Linked DNA regions of Homo sapiens: region 1 is linked to region 2. A link means that fine-mapping ties the variant in region 2 to the expression of a gene that starts in the linked region. Tissue or cell type: whole blood. Region 2 holds a variant in brackets; the other region holds the start of a gene. All regions are shown on one strand. Distances are between the middles of the regions.

Region 1 (8,000 bases), 47 kb after region 2:
AGCAGAACAAAGTAAGGCTAAGCTTTTTCCACTTCCTGTGGGACTCTCCAACAAACAATGTTGCTTGCTGTTTAATCCTCTGAGAATCTATGAACACAGAAACCAATGAAAATAATAAACATATTAACTTTATAAAGGTCTCTCTCCATCTGAAGTTTAAATAGAACAGCAAGGAAAAGTGAGATTGCACTCCAGGGAACACAACAATAGCAGAAGGAACTCATATTTAGTTAAATCCAAACTGTATTCCTTTACACCTCTCCCTAAGATTATCTTACTAAAATATCAAGCACAAGAGAAGAAATGAAAAGAGGAATCTGTGCCAGAATTATGCAAGCATCAATGATTTCTGTAAAACCAGAATACATTACTACCTATCAATATATTTGATGAAAACTTAATGAAGGATACTGCTAGTGAGAGTACAAATTGTTACAACTACTTGGTAGAGAAATAAACAATTTCTTATAAAGTGAAGATGCCCAGCTCCAGCAAGTCCAGTTCTATGTGTACACCCAAAACCTTTCCCACATGAACACAAGGAAACATGCATAAGAAAGTTCACAGCAGCAGCCACGCTTGTAATCCCATCACTTTGGGAGGCCAAGGCAGGTGGATCATTTGAGGTCAGGAGTTCGAGACCAGCCTGGCCAACACGGTGAAAACCCGTCTCTACTAAAAATCCAAAAATTAGCTGGGCGTGGTGGCGCATCCCTGTAATCCCAGCTACTGGGGAGGCTGAGGCAGGAGAATAGCTTCAGCCTGGGAGGCAGGGGTTGCAGTGAGCCAAGATCGCGCCACTGCACTCCAATCTGGGCGACAGAGTGAGACGCTGTCTCAAAAACAAAAAGAAAAAAGGAAGTTCACAGCAGCATTGTTTGTAACTGCAAAAGAATGTAAACAACCTAAATGTCTACCAATAAGAAAATGGACAGATAAATTCTGGTATATTCATCCAATGGAATTTATACAACAATTAAAATGGATTAAGAATCAACAGGGCTATACATTAAAAATAATGCTAAGTTAAAAAACTCAAGTTCTGCATAAAAAGTAAGGTACCGTATCACATCAATGCACAGTTTCAAATATGTAAAATAATATTCTATATTGTTTATGGATACATATATATGTAATAAAAGTATAAAAACATGGCTAGGAAAGGAAAAGAACAAATTCAGGATACTAATAATCTTGTTACCAGTAAATAAGATATGAAGTACATATGGCAAAATAGCTGTAACAAAACTGGAAAGCTGGTTTACTCAAATTTGTATATTAATTTTCTACATGATCCAAACAAAACAATGGTGAGAAAAATAGTATTCTGTGTAAAAGATAGTAAATACTCTGTTTTTACTTAAAAGTATAGCAGTTTTTCATTAAAAGTATAGAAATTCCAAATGAGCTGAGAACATTTTTCAGAATGTTCTTCTTTGCCTTAACCACAGATATATACAGTTTAGCTGCAATCAGTAGTTTCCCAGAGGTTAGATATTCTTCCAAGTGAACCCAGAAAATATTCTCCATTTACTGAGAATATGAATGCAGTCAAATACTCAATGTACTTTATGGGTCATAAGTATCTATATCTTAATAAAAACTTAACTGCTGAAAAATACTTACAGAATTCATCATAGCAAGCTGTGACGGGTAAGCTTTATAAGGAAAGTAAATCTTCACCCCACCAATTGTATATTCAGACCACATTGAAGACATAGTGCTTTCCTGTTTATTTCAGATTCCTAACTACAACAGAAATGAAAATGTCAAATATTGAGACACGCCTTACAAAGAAAACCAGAGAACCAAAACTAAGGGAGAAATCTGGAAACAGAAACTGGAATTAATAAAAGTATAAACAAAACAAATGGAAACAAAATAATTTCCTAGTCTTATAAATCACAGCGGTCAAGAGCATGTCTTAGAGTCTAACAAATCTAGATTTGTATCCTTCACTCTGCCAGGTATTAGTTGTGTGACTTCGGGAAAGTTAGTTACCTTCTCTAAGCCACAGTGACTGCATGTACCCCATAGGATTGTGGTAATGATTAAGTGAAATAATGTGCAAATATGATAAAGTACATACCAGATTAAACATGAGCTCTTGTAACAGTTAGATCAGATGTAATCAACCTACAGAAACAAATAAGTTCCTGAGGCCTCTCTCTCTACAACTCCGTAGCATCACTCTTTCTCCAGTTCTTCCCCTTTGTGTTACCCCTTTCTGCAGTCCTCCAGTTAGAAGAAAAAAGCTGTTGACCAGAAGTCAGGAAGCATAGGTTCTATACCAGGTTTTGGTATACTGCCTGGTATGTTATCTTTGACTCAGGTATGTTATCTTTGACATATCTTTTTACTTCTCTAGTCTAAGATCCTTACCTGTGATAACCCCTAATTTAATTTAAAGGCTGTTATAAGAAAGAGAATGCCTTGGCACATAGTAGGCACTCAAAAATGTTATTTGAAGATCAGTAGAGTATTATAGAAACAGGATGGGCTTTGGAGTAAGGCAATCCTAAGTTTGAATTCCACTGTGTGAATCACTTAACTTCTCAGAGCTTGTTTCTCCATATATGGAATTGAAATACTACTACTTACCTGACAGGGTTTTTATGAAAATTAGCCAGGGCAGAATGTACCTAACCCAGGATCTGATACAGATGAGGATCACTTTAATCCTCACCTCTTCTAAACCACTTTTCTTAACCTAGGATCCACGGATGTAATTCAGAGACAATGACCTCTTGAAATTGCAAGCATAAGTTTCTGTACATGATTGCATTTTTCTGAAGAAAAAGTCCATAGATTTCTCTTCCCGTAAATATATCTCAAGGAAATCAAAATAGCGGGGGAAATTACATGCACTGTTATTAAATAAGGAATTATTTGCAGTCGTGGGAAAAAATTGTAAATTCAACCTGGGGACGAAGAGATGGTTAAAATAGCAATTCAATAGATTATGAAGCCAATAATAACATTCACCACTGCTTGTGTGCTCCAAAAGAAGAACCATTATTCTAGGGTATTTTCCAGCTCTAACATTTTGCGATTCTATCTGTAAAGCTCTGAGAATGAGGTATGGTGGAATCTAACCTCTTAATATGAATCAACAACTCAACGCTGGCCTAGTTACTCAGATATAATCTAGAAATCAGCCCGTCCTGTACCCCGGCTGTGGCAACAATAGTGTCAAAATGGGGTAGCTTCCCCCAAACATTGCATAAAGGATAAACACACCCCTCTGCCTCCCGCCAAGAATTAACGCAGCGCCCGGGCTAAGAACAGGCCTGCGCTCAAAGGAGGTAAGGATAGGCTCCCTCCTCAGGTTTTCTGCCCCGTATCTCCCTCCTCCCCCAGCCAGTTGAGATCCCCGAGACCCTGGTGATCCAGTCACCACCCATGGGCCCGCAGGCTGTGCAGAAGAACTCAAGCCCTTTCCGTGGACTTCCCTCCGACTTGCCTGTCTGGAGGGAAACCGAAGCAACGCTCTGAGCTCCGATTCACTGAAGAAAAGGAAAGGAAACCGACTTCTGAGAGCAAATAAAGCGGAGCCCTGGAAGAGAAGAAAGGGCACGAGCCCTTCCTCCTCCCTCTTCCTGGGGGTGCTGCTACTTCCCCGGCCTTGTGTGCAGGACTGGGGCCGCCGTTACCTTTCCTCGACCCACCAGACCCCTCAACCACACAACCCGAGACGAATTCCCGCCTCCCGCCCCCTCGACTCCCAGCGCCCAATAGCCCAGCGAGCTCGACCAATCACCCGCCAAGGCCAGGAATCAACCAGTCCCGGTGCGAGGTGAGGGGGCGAGAACTTCGGCATCCAATGGAAGTCTCCGAAAAAAAAAAAAAAAAACAAGGGCTCAAGGTACGCGGCGGAAGGTTGTCGCCACTCCAGCAAATCCCTAGTGTTTGTTTAAAGTAGAAAGTCGTCTCAGTTTGACTTTTGAAACCGGCGATAGAGTCTATGCAGCAAATTCCTTGGAAACTGGAAGTCTCATTCTTCACGTCCGTAGACCAGCGGAAAGGAAGTATCTTTAAGCTTTGCCAAGTTCTTTGAGCATTTATCAGTGCCACTCAATTTAAATTACCCAGCTTTGCAGTAGCCAGGATAGCGAAGACTCAGGCGGGAATTGCCAGACTGCTGAGCCAAACTTAAGTAAGAAGGCTCTGTGACATCGGGCTACAATCTATCTTTCATAATATTCAAGGCTTTCCCGGATGCTAAAATAAGCCAGAGACAAGCTCTCAGGGTCTCCAGTATCAGATCACTTCTACTTCCATTAAGGCTTATCCGCCTTCCATCCCTCCTAAGACCAGTTTATTATTTGCCAGTAGTACTTTAATTTACTCAAAGAAAAGGAGGTTCATCATGATCTTGCCAAATCATGTTATTTTTTTAAAAAATCTGTATAACCTAAACTTGGCTCAAATAATAATGTCTCCAAAAGGCAAAACCTCATACTGTTTCTCAAATTCAAGTAACTAGTTTGGGGAAGGAGTTTGCTGGGAAGAAAGAGCAGGAGGGGGCTAGTTGATTTGTTTGCCTCATTGTCAATTGTGATATATCTTACCAAAAATGACAAAACTTGTAGTCATAAAAATAAACTCTACCCTTTGACCTAGTAATCTGAGCTCCAGATATTTATCCTAAAGACGTAATCTAAACGAAAGAAAATGTGATACCGCAATTGACAATAATATCTATTGGTAATACTGAAAAAAATTATGAACTTCCCAGTCTAGTAATATGGAGGTGGTTATGACAGATGAATTCAATACATTATGAAGCCAATAAACTTATAAAAATTAAACTTGCAAGAAAAAATCCCATATAAGGTTAAGTGAAAAAAGGCAAAGCAAACCCCAAACTGGGTGTTAGGGATTCAGTAATGTGAAAATACATATGAATGAGCAAAGATGAAGTAATTTACTGTTAAGACAATGAAAGGAAGGATAATGTTTAAAAATAAATCCTTAAAAATACCTTCAAATTGTCATTTCTCTTTTATAATTTTTAAAACATCAACTCTTGGCCGGGCGCAGTGGCTCACGCCTGTAATCCCAGCACTTTGGGAGGCCGAGGCAGGCGGATCACCAGGTCAGGAGACCAAGACCATCCTGGCTAACACGGTGAAACCCCGTCTCTACTAAAAATACAAAAAATTAGCCGGGCGTGGTGGCGGGCGCCTGTAGTCCCAGCTACTCGGGAGACTGAGGCAGGAGAATGGCGTGAACCCAGGAGGCGGAGCTTGCAGTGAGCCGAGATGGCGCCACTGCACTCCAGCCTGGGAGACAGAGCGAGACTCCGTCTCAAAAAAAAAAAAAATCAACTCTTTTGAGTAACTGCTCTAGTATAACTACTCTCATTTTCCTCTCCTAAATTACTAAGAGTTTCAACTGGCTCTCACCTTGCATTGCCATTTAATGTATGTGGCATAACAGAAAGGGATACACGTAGGCCCTGGAGCCATACAGACCTCGAATACAGTCCCTTGAACCGTTCCCTTCAGGTTAACTCTAGTGGAATGAAACACAAAAACTACAGGTTCGTTTGATAAAGAATATGAATGTTTATAAACCAATATTCAAAATAGCTGCACACATCTGTTTTCACTTGAATAAAAAAACACATTGTGACAAATTTTATAACCTTAACTTAAAATACATGAATATTAACATTTACTAATATATTTACACATTTTATTTACATCATCAACAAATCTGATGAAAAAGAGCATATGTGATTATTTTAACACAGCAGGTTATGACCAGTCTTTGAATATTGATCCAGGAATGTGCACTGCATTTAATTAGAAAACATACTTTTAACTTTTTCTGAACTCCTAGGGCATATCTATTCACACAAAATATCGCAAGGCCTCAGTTTAAAAAAAAAAGGAGCAGTTGTATTTAATCTTAAGGGACTACAAAACTGCCTTGTTTAAAAATATGAAAATTCTTATGCTATTTTTAAGATACTTTTATTACTTTTATTTTTCACATCAAAATTACTTAATTGAACATTAAGCATCTAATAAAAAGTTATAAATATTCTATCACATGTGATACTATGCACTTCATGATTTGAAACAGCTACAAACTCATTCTCATAGAATATGAGGTAGGGCCAGTAGTAACCCCATTTTACAAAGGAAGAAAATGAGATGTGACTATTTACTAGTGAAAAGGCTAAAGTTAAATTTCATTTCTCAAAAACTACACCTTCTTATTAGCCTAATTTCTTTTACAAGTGAAGCGGTCTGGCCAGGTGCGGTGGCTCACACCTGTAATCCCAGCACTTTGGGAGGCCAAGGTGGGCAGATCACCTGAGGCCAGGAGTTCAAAACCAGTCTGGGCAACATGGCAAACCCCCGTCTTTACTAAAAATACAAAAATACAGGTGGCGCGTGCCTGCAGTCCCAGCTACTCAGGAGGTTGAGGCACGAGAATCCCTTGAACCCAGGTGGCAGAAGTTGCAGTGAGCCAAGATCATCCCACTGCACTCCAGCCTGGGCAACAGGGGAAGACTCCACCTCAGGAAAAAAAAAAAAAAAACACAAGTGAAGAGGTCTGTTTCAAGTGGGGGTGGGGAAGTGTGTGATTGAGGTATATCTCAGAGAGAAAAAAGGGAATTACTTTCTACATTGATAATTTTTTTTTAATGATTAGGGTTTACCTGAATATGTCTGCCTAATCAATGGAAGTTACTGACAGAGGACTGCAAAATCCTTCGGCAAGACAATATTTTCTACACTTTAACTTTTCCTCAGGTTCAAACACTGCATTTTCTTACTCAAAGATCTTCTCAAAGTAAGATATGAATTATAATCCTGATGACAAACCAAGAGCTCTTTAATCCAGTGGGTTTTATTGCTCTACCTTCATTTAATTTGATACATATTTCCCCCCTCTGAGCATTAGGTAAGTTAATAAAGCATTATAAAAATAAATTTAAAACATAAAACTAAATGAGATCTCTCAGGTTCTTCTTTGAACAAAGATGTTTCTGTAAACACTTTTACACCAGTATCTTAAAATTCCAAATTATTCAAGTATCTCTTTAAACATATGGCTTCATATATTAATAAAAATTGAAGCAAATATGTGAAATCTTTAAATCCTCATCTGTATTTCCACAGAAATCATTTACAAAAGCTACTTGCCTTTTTAAAAGTCTTCTCAATACTCTTTCTTGAGAACTAGAATTCCAACTTGCATTACTATTACTTGCACTGCAAATCTTTGAGATTTCTACTTGTGTTTTTAACTCCTATTATTTCCTTAATTCTCCTTTCCCTTTACCCTTTTTTCCTCTCCCATCTTTGCATCTTTGTCACATTCTGTTACAAGCTCACAGTTAAAATAAACACTAGGGCTACCCACAGACTCATTTTTATAAGAAATTAAAGGCATGGCAGTCTTCACTTCAAAAGCTAAATACAAGGCCAAATTCCCTTTCCAATAATGAGTTTCTTACATGTGTTCCCAGTGGAAAAAAAAAAAGCTCAGCTGCTACAATAGAAACATATCAGCAAAGTAGATCCAAAGATGTGCCAATCAGAAACAAGCAAGCATAATTCTCATAAAGTTCTAAACTATACTCATGTTGAATTGAATTGTTTTAGTGATTCCAAGACAATACTTTACTGTTCCCATTCAGTTTAGAGTTGTTACTAATATGCAGATTCATGTTGGGTATATGCAGCAAACAACTTTTTGTTGTTTTAAATTTTGTTTTAAATTCCACTAACACTCATATTTATTATTTCAATTACTGTTCTTTCAATACAGTGACAGAGCTGTACATCAGGATCCATGCTTCCAGTGTCCCTGGATCCATTTTTATAAGATGAATCTTTACAGATTTGAGACCATCCACTTGGTTTCTCCTTTATTTGTTGAAGACCTACAACATAAGGGAAAAAAAACATTAAGGCCAAGAAATTTGGAAAGGAATTTGGCCTTTTTGTTTGAGATATTAAGATAACCCTTGAAAATAA
Region 2 (8,360 bases):
CATTCTTTCAAAGATGAAGAGTTCGAAGATTTGATCTTGAAAGAAAGATGAATTGCTGAGTCCTTGCCACTGTTCCTTTCACAAGCTATAATTATAAGTTCAAACGGTAACATACCACAATGTCAACTTCTAAAGATTTATAACTTTCTCCAAACTTTCCCTACCACTCACACAAAAAAATACTATGCCTAAATACCTGAAAAATGAGCATAGCAATTAAATATTTTTAGAAATGGAAAATGATAAAGAAATAGGAACTAATTTCATTGCCAAAGAAGAAGTTCCTTTGCTAACTGTAAATCAGGAGAGATTCTCAAAGGAGACTACAAATTGAATTTCAAAAGCAGGCAGGAGTACGAAAACTAAGTATATAAAGAAGTAGAGAGAAAAAGAGAATGAAGAGAAACCTGTTTGAGTGAAATAAAAGGAAAACTAGGTCAATGAAACAGTAAAAAAAAAAAATACAAAAACTTGTGTTCTTCCATAACTTTCCACATGTGCATGTATTGTCTTTCCAACCACACTGCAAATTCCTTGAAGACAGAAACTATGTCTTACATTTCTTTATATAGCTCATTCATCGAGAGTGGTGTTTTGCACATAACTGTAACTTAGCTTTTTTTAAACTGATGAATTATGACTAAATGTCCCTGAACCAAATACTGTACCCATGCATTACAATTAAATCTGACAGATGCTTAAATGATGTCCTAATTTGAAGTGCTGCACATATCAAAAAGATACTTCAAAATCCAGATTAGCTTTTAAAGGAAAAAGTACAGGACAATTACTATTTTTCAAGGCCAAAAAGAAAAACCATCTTATGCTAGTATTTTAGTCGTGACAAACATATATCCCAATATTTTCATTAGTAATAATACTGCCATTTTTAAGCCTGTCCTTGTGCTAAACATTTTTCATCTAATATCCCATTTCATTCATTCATTGACTCAAGAGACATTGGAATCCCTATATATCAAGCCACGGAGAAGACAATGACAAGGATCACCTCATCTTACTGACAAAGAGAGCTTCATTCTTAAATTGTTCTACAAAGTGTAGTTCTTGGAGTTTATCACACCATTTTCACTCATAAACCAAGGAATTGTTTAAAGTTAGTTATATTATTTTATGAATGCAATTACAAAATATTCCTAAGTATGATCTTCATAAAAATTGTTTTAACTTATTAGTTGACATTTAAATCAAATATGTTATAACAAGATCCATATTATGTCCCCCAAGGGAAAAATAAAAAACACAAACTTTCAATTAATAGACTCTTTAGAGCAAGAGTCAGCAAAAGAGCCAGACAGTAAACATTTCAAGCTTCAAAGGCTATATGGTCTCTTCTTCCATAGGAAGATATCTTTTATGATCGAAATGTAGAGAAGGATTTCCTAAAACAATAAACCAAAAACACAAATGAGTGAAAACACAGCTTCATTAACATGTTAAACTTCTATTTAAAGATACATATTCCTTAAAGAAGGAAAGAAAAATAGGTAAAAAGGGGGCACAGGCTGACAGAAGATACTTGCAGTGCTTACAGTCAAGTGAGGATCAGTATCTACAACATATAAAGAATTCCAATAAATCTATTTTTAAAAGACAAACCCTACAGAAAACCAAGAACAGGCAAATCACAGAAGAGAAAAGCTGAAAGGCTAATAAATATCTGAAAAGATGTGCCATCTAATGTACAGCTTCACTAGTAATTAGGAAAATGCAAATTAAAACCATAATTAGATTCCATTTCCTATCCACCAGATTGGGTACTGGAGAGGATATGAAGAAACTCTTATTCACTGCTGATCGAAGTATAAATTGGCACAACTACTTGAGAGCAAATTGGTGATCTAGTGAAATCAAAGATACATATACCCTTTGACCCAGCATGACACTGTTAGGTATACATGCTAGAAAAACTCTTGCACATTAAGACAGATACAAGAGGAATATTAATTGCAGCATTGTTTTAATAGTGAGAAAAACAAGCTACATGTATCAACAGAAGGAATGGATGAGTAAATTGTGGGCTCTTTCCAATCAATGGAATAATATTATAATGAAAATATATGAATGACAGTTGTATGCATCGACATCGATAAACATGAACAAGCAGTTGAACAGGCTGAGTATGGCTTAAACAAAATTGTATTTTCCCCATAAAATTCTAAATAAGTTGATGATAGAAATAAAAATATAAAACTTCAGGTAGAGAGTGAGGAATCAAGACTATGGAAGATAATCTTAAAAGCTAACAATTGTCATGAAAAACATACCTGAAAAATGCTAGAAGTGCTGGAAAAAAAAAAAAAAACCCACAGTAAATATACTCTGTTCTGGTTTCTCCTCAGTTGTTTCATACCCAGCAGAATAGCTTTCATCTTAACACCTCCTCCTCAAAAGTTTTCAACCTAATTTATTAGGAAATGGGTTCTCAAATTAGGGTCCATGGGCTATTACAGATCACCCAGAAACTACAGACACAATTTTGTGTGCATTTTTAGAAAGTGAACCCCTAACTTTAATCAAGTGCTCAAAGCAGATTGTGACTGATTTGGGTTAGGGCTTTATTCCAGAATTTATATCTGGTTTTTTAACGAAAATCAAATGGAAACAACATTTTCTTTATAACCAAATTAGCCAGACATAGTTATTCTGTAAAGGAATAAACAACAGCCAAGAGAATTTCATAAAGTTTCCTCCACTGCTTCTGAACTCATTTCTATTTTAATGTTTGTTAATTACCTAATATTAACATAAGGCTAAAATACTCAGTTCACTAATGTATATTTCTAACTTCATTTTACAGATAAAAAAGGAAATTCAGAAGAATTCAAATTCCCACAAAATACACAATAAATTTGTGGAGAAGTTGAAATTCATAACCTTAAATCTTTAAAGTGAAGCTTTAACAGGATTGTTTTCATCTACCACTTAAGCAAAAAAGCAAAACACTGCCCTTTATTTCAAAAAGTCATGCATATGAAGAGCTAGTGGTAAAAGGCCAATGAACATAGAATTATACTACAAACTTTGAGACATAAAAAAGGGTTTTTTAATCTTTATCAACCATTTGCTGTTGTCCAAGCCATCTAAACAGGTACTGAATGCCCGTTGTGCAAAATCTCACATTAGCACACACTCTAGTAAGATAGCAAAAGTAACATAACTATACCTTTTCAACTATTCTTTTTTTAAAAATTCAAACAGTAGTAGTACCCTACTGCCACCGTTTCATGATTAGACTGCACAAAGCAGCTGTTTATCCACTCACAGCAACCAGCAGGTGAACCTGATTCAATATTTATCACAGGCTTTCATAGATCACTGCTAACCAAGCAAACGTTTTAATTAAGCTGGAACTTGCTTCAAAGAGCTCATTCAAGATGTCAATCAGCAGGTAGGGGATCAGATACAGTGTCAGGTGAGAGTGTGTAATACAAATCCACAACTTTCTTCATCCCATCGCTGTAAATTAGCCTGCTCTAAAGTTCAGACTCTGATTGTAACAGACTGCCAGTCTCCTGGAATGTGTAACTGAAGTCACTCAAATTCTATTGTGAAGGTTGTAAGCAATATGTTAAACTGCAGTGGGCTAGCACATTAAGACAGATCCTTTTCACGGTTGTTTTTTGATACCATAAGTGTTTGTTACCCTACTCTCCACTTACTGTTTACTTTCTTGCCTAGTGTAAATGGGAATTCCTTAACACAGTTGCTCCAGTTTCTGAAAAGTCTGTGTTTCAATAGAGTAAATCAATAAGAATTATCAGTTTAAGAACAAGCATATCATAAAGATGACTGACCTGCTAT[A/G]AAGCAAAAATTATCCTGGTATAATAGAACTTTACATAGATGTGATTATAGCAATGAGTCTCAAAGCAGTGATGAGTCACACCGATCAACTTCATGAGAAAAACCCAGGGTGTTTATAAAAAATAAAAAGGGGAAAAAGAAGACTCAAACGAGCAAAATGGGGAAGTGGGCGGGTAGGCGGAAAATATCTTCTTTAAATAAGAATGCCAGCTAAGAATTGTAAATAAAATGATAGAATTTTAAAAATCACCATTTTGCAACTTTCCTGTACTAACTGATTCAGGCAAGTTACATAAATGGATGCTGAAATCTTTCAGTGAAAAGTTATTAGGGAACAGAATATTGACAAAGTCTCAAAATATCACCCCACAGATTATTCATTAATTACAAAAGGAAAATGTACCTTTACAATGAAGAGACCTGGCAGTGACACTCTAACCAAGTGGTGAAATTCAGCATCAATGGTATTGAGACTAACTGGCTTCATATGCCTCCTGATATAAGAAATATACTCTTGTGCCCATCTTCAATAAAACTACATGATTATTAAATCCAAACAATCAAGACATGAATCAAAAAGAACCTGGGAATAGAGAAACTGTGGTAAAAAGACATATATGTATTATTTAGTCGGTGAAAATTCATCCAATTGTAATTTATGATATGTACACTTGGTTATAGATTGTATTTCAAAAAGGCTTTTAAAAAAAACCCTATCTCTTGAGATTGCAGGTAATTTTTACTTTCTCCTTTATGGTATTTTTCAAACTTTCTTCAATGAACCTTTTAAAATGAGAAAACAATGCTATCCTATCATGTCATTTTCCACATATTAACCAAAATGCTATAAACAAAACATATGACATAGAGATTTGTGCTTCTATGGGCTTTAAAAATTAAATGGTTATTATTACATACAAGTCTCTAAAGCAGCACTACCCAACAGGATTTTCTGTGATGACAGCGTATTTGATATCTGCACTATTCAATATATTTGGCATTAGCCGCATGGGCACTTGAAATGTAATTAGTACAACTAACTGAATTTTAATTTTAATTAATCAAAAAACATAAATACATGTGGCTAGTGGACAGAATACATTTAAAGTATTATCAGAGATTCTAGAAAACCAATGGTTATTGCAGGTGCATTGTATGTGTGAGAAATTCTCTTCGTAAATTCAAGTTAGAAAGGAAAAAGCAAAAGTACACTGTAAAAATTGTGTGCTCATAGGTAAAAATGGGTTCTGCAGGTTGCAGCTCATGAAAACTGGGTTCACAATTTTTGTAGACTAGTAAACTACTTTTCTTAATCTTTTTTGTTCTAATTTTTGTCTGAATTCCAATCAAAATCCCAGCAAGATTTTTTTTTGGGTAATCTAAATTTAATCTTGAAAATAAATAAGTGAGAATAACCAAAACTTTTTGGAAAAATAAGATGGGGACAGGTGTGATCTCTCACACCTGTAATCCCAGCACTTTGGGAGGCCAAGGCAGGCATATCACTTGTGCTTGGGAGTTCGAGACCAGCCTGGGCAACATGGCAAGACCTCATCTCTAAAAAGGGGGGAGGGGGGGGAAAGATGGGCAAGTAGGGTATATATTTCTATAGATGTAAGAATTTCAAATATATGATAAAGATGCTGTATTAGGCACCTCTATGGACATGTGTCCACCTACTTACTCTGAAATCATCTATATCCCCTGCTGAAAGGCTGAACCTAATATCCACATTAATAACACATATCCAAAGACACTCTCAGGCATAGCAAGATCAATTAGTTTCACTTTCCCAAGAACTTGTATTTGGGGCATTTAGACTGAGTTGATTAATTACAGAAAATAGGCCACATCATTTGGTAGATTTTAGGCTTCCACTTTGAGATGTCATGGTAAGGTCATATGAAAGAGTGTAAGTATCTAGAAAAACCAATCTACAAAAAATAATGAGAAAACTTTGCTGAGAAATGCAGATGTCACACCAGAGGCCCCAAAGAGAACAGAGAAGCTGCCTAAAAACTTTTCATTTCCAATGAGGGGAATTATATCTCCTGCATGATCTTTCTTTTAGCGGGTTTCTATTTCTTAAAAAGCAGATCACTCCCTTAAAAATCTGATTTAAAAATGGGCCAAAAATTTGAATAGACATTTCTCAAAAGATATACAAATGGCAAACAGACATATGAAAAGGTGCTCAACATCACTGATCATCAGAGAAATGCAAATCCAAACTACAATGAGATATAATTTCATCCCAATTAAAATGGCTTTTATTGGCTGGGCACGGTGGCTCACACTTGTAATCCCAGCACTTTGGGAGGCCGAGGGGGGCAGATCACCTGAGGTCAGTAGTTCGAGACCAGCCTGGCCAACTTGGTGAAACCCAATCTCTACCAAAAATACAAAAATCAGCCAGGTGTGGTGGTGCACGCCTGTAATCCCAGCTACTCAGGAGGCTGAGGCAGGAGAATCACTTGAACCCGGGAGGCAGAAGTTGCAGCGAGCCGAGATCATGCCACTGCACTCCAGCCTGGGCAACAGAGTGAGAATTTGTCTCAAAAAAAAAAAAAAAAGGCTTTTATCCAAAACACAAGCAATAACAAATGCTGGCGAGGATGTGGAGAAAAGGGAACCCTCATACACCGTTGGTGGGAATGTAGATTAGTACAACCACTATCGAGAACAATTTGGAAATTCCTCAAAAAACTAAAAATTGAATTACCATATGATCCAGCAATCCCACTGCTAGGTGTATATCCAAAAGAAAGAAAATCAGTATATCGAGGAGATATCTGCACTCTCATGTTTATTGCAGCATTATTCACAATAGCCAAGATTTGGAAGCAACCTAAGTGTCCATCAACAGATGAATGAATGAAGAGAATGTGGCACATACACAATGAAGTACTATTTAGTCATAAAAAGAATGAGATCCTGTCATTTTCAACAACATAAATGGAACTGGAGGTCATTATGTTAAGTAAAATAAGCCAGGCACAGAAAGACAAACTTTGCATGTTCTCACTCATTTGTGAGAGCTAAAAATTAAAACAGGTGAACTCATGGAGAGAGAGAGTAGAAGGGTGGTTTTCAGAGGCTGGGCAAGGTAGTCTAGGGAGGGGAGAGAGTGGAGTTGTTAATGGGAACAAAAAAGTAGTTAGAAAGAATAAATAAGACTTAGTATTTGCTAGCACAACAGGGTGAATATAGTAAAAAATAATGTAATTGTACATTTCAAAATAACTAAGAGTATAATTGGATTATTTGTAACACAAAGGATAAATGCTTCAGGTGATGGATACCTCATTTACCCTAATATGATTATTACACATTGCATGCCTGTATCAAAATGTCTCATGTACTTCATAAATATATACACCTACTATGTACCCACCAAAATTAAAAATTAAAAAAAAAAAAAGCAAACCACCCTGTTTAAATCAGGTGGCATTTCAAATCTGTGGGGGAAATTATTCAACTAATATTTAGATGAATGACTATTTGGGGAAAAAAATTAGATCCTATCTCCCACCTTACATCAAAATAATTTACAGTTGAATTAAAGATCAGTATATAAGAACTGAAACCACGAGACTTCCAGTCTAATATGGCAGATTAGGTACACACATTTGCCCTCCTTCCCACCTAAAACACCACTAAAATAAACTTACTTAGTAGCTGAAGTTGCAAACTGGAGGTCCACAAATCATACCTGCTTCACAATCATGTTTTGAATGGCTACACAGAGTTTTATAAATTTGAACTACTTAAAAATTATGAGATGAAAATCCATAGTGCTGGTTTCTTCTAGAAAAACTGGTTGACTGGCCACATTAGGCCTGTATTCTTACAGGACAGCAATCCACTAACATTGACTAGATTGCCACATTTGGATGAGACATATACTCTCAAGGTATCACAGTCCCTGCCACTTAAAGAATGTAATCACATGCACTTATACTTAGACCCCTTCTTTCATTCATGCTACCTATCTGGTGCTCATTTAAGTTGCCAACCCTGGTTACAAAAGTGTAAAAAGGGCCAGGCACAGTGGCTCACGCCTGTAATCCCAACACTTTGGGAGACCGAGGGGAGTGGATCACTTGAGGTCAGGAGTTCAAAATCAGCCTAGCCAACATGGTGAAACCCTGTCTCTACTAAAAATACAAAAATTAGCCAGGCGTGGTGGCATGCACCTGTAATCCCAACTACTCGGGAGGCTGGGGCAGGAGAATCACTTGAGCCAGGGAAGCGGAGGTTGCAGTGGGCTGAGATCCCGCTATTGCACTCCAGCCTGGGCAACGAAGCGAGACTCTGTCTTAAAAAAAAAAAAAGAAAGAAAGAAAGAAAGTACACTCCACAGAGTGGGAGGGGGCTTGAGCAAGAGGCTCAAGAGCACTGGTTACAAAATTTTCTGGAGTTTAAATACTCTCTAGAGGTTTCCATTGGTTATTTTGTTGCACACTATGTAAATAAACACGTGGCCTGTGACCAGTCTGATTGGTTGTGGGAGGCAACCAATCAGAAGCTGAAGGGAA

What was found. PIP is the estimated chance that this variant, and not a neighbour inherited with it, causes the effect.
Region 1: it holds the start of BRIP1, and the variant in region 2 is fine-mapped to the expression of BRIP1 in whole blood (TOPMed, PIP above 0.99).

The regions. Positions count from the first base shown.
Region 1 is chr17:61,859,821-61,867,820 of GRCh38, forward strand. BRIP1 (BRCA1 interacting DNA helicase 1) reads right to left here and starts at 3,708. Exons shown (of 20, transcript NM_032043.3): 1 at 3,464-3,708; 2 at 1,627-1,749; 3 at 1-87. The coding sequence starts at 1,719. INTS2 (integrator complex subunit 2) reads right to left here. Exons shown (of 25, transcript NM_001351695.2): 25 at 5,547-7,906. The coding sequence ends at 7,737.
Region 2 is chr17:61,812,807-61,821,166 of GRCh38, forward strand. The region is part of intron 6 of BRIP1 (BRCA1 interacting DNA helicase 1); the gene reads right to left. Among named protein-coding and RNA genes, the nearest start is that of BRIP1, 47 kb to the right of the region's middle. RefSeq lists an enhancer at 2,952-3,974. The variant A/G (reference allele first, on the strand shown) is at 3,823.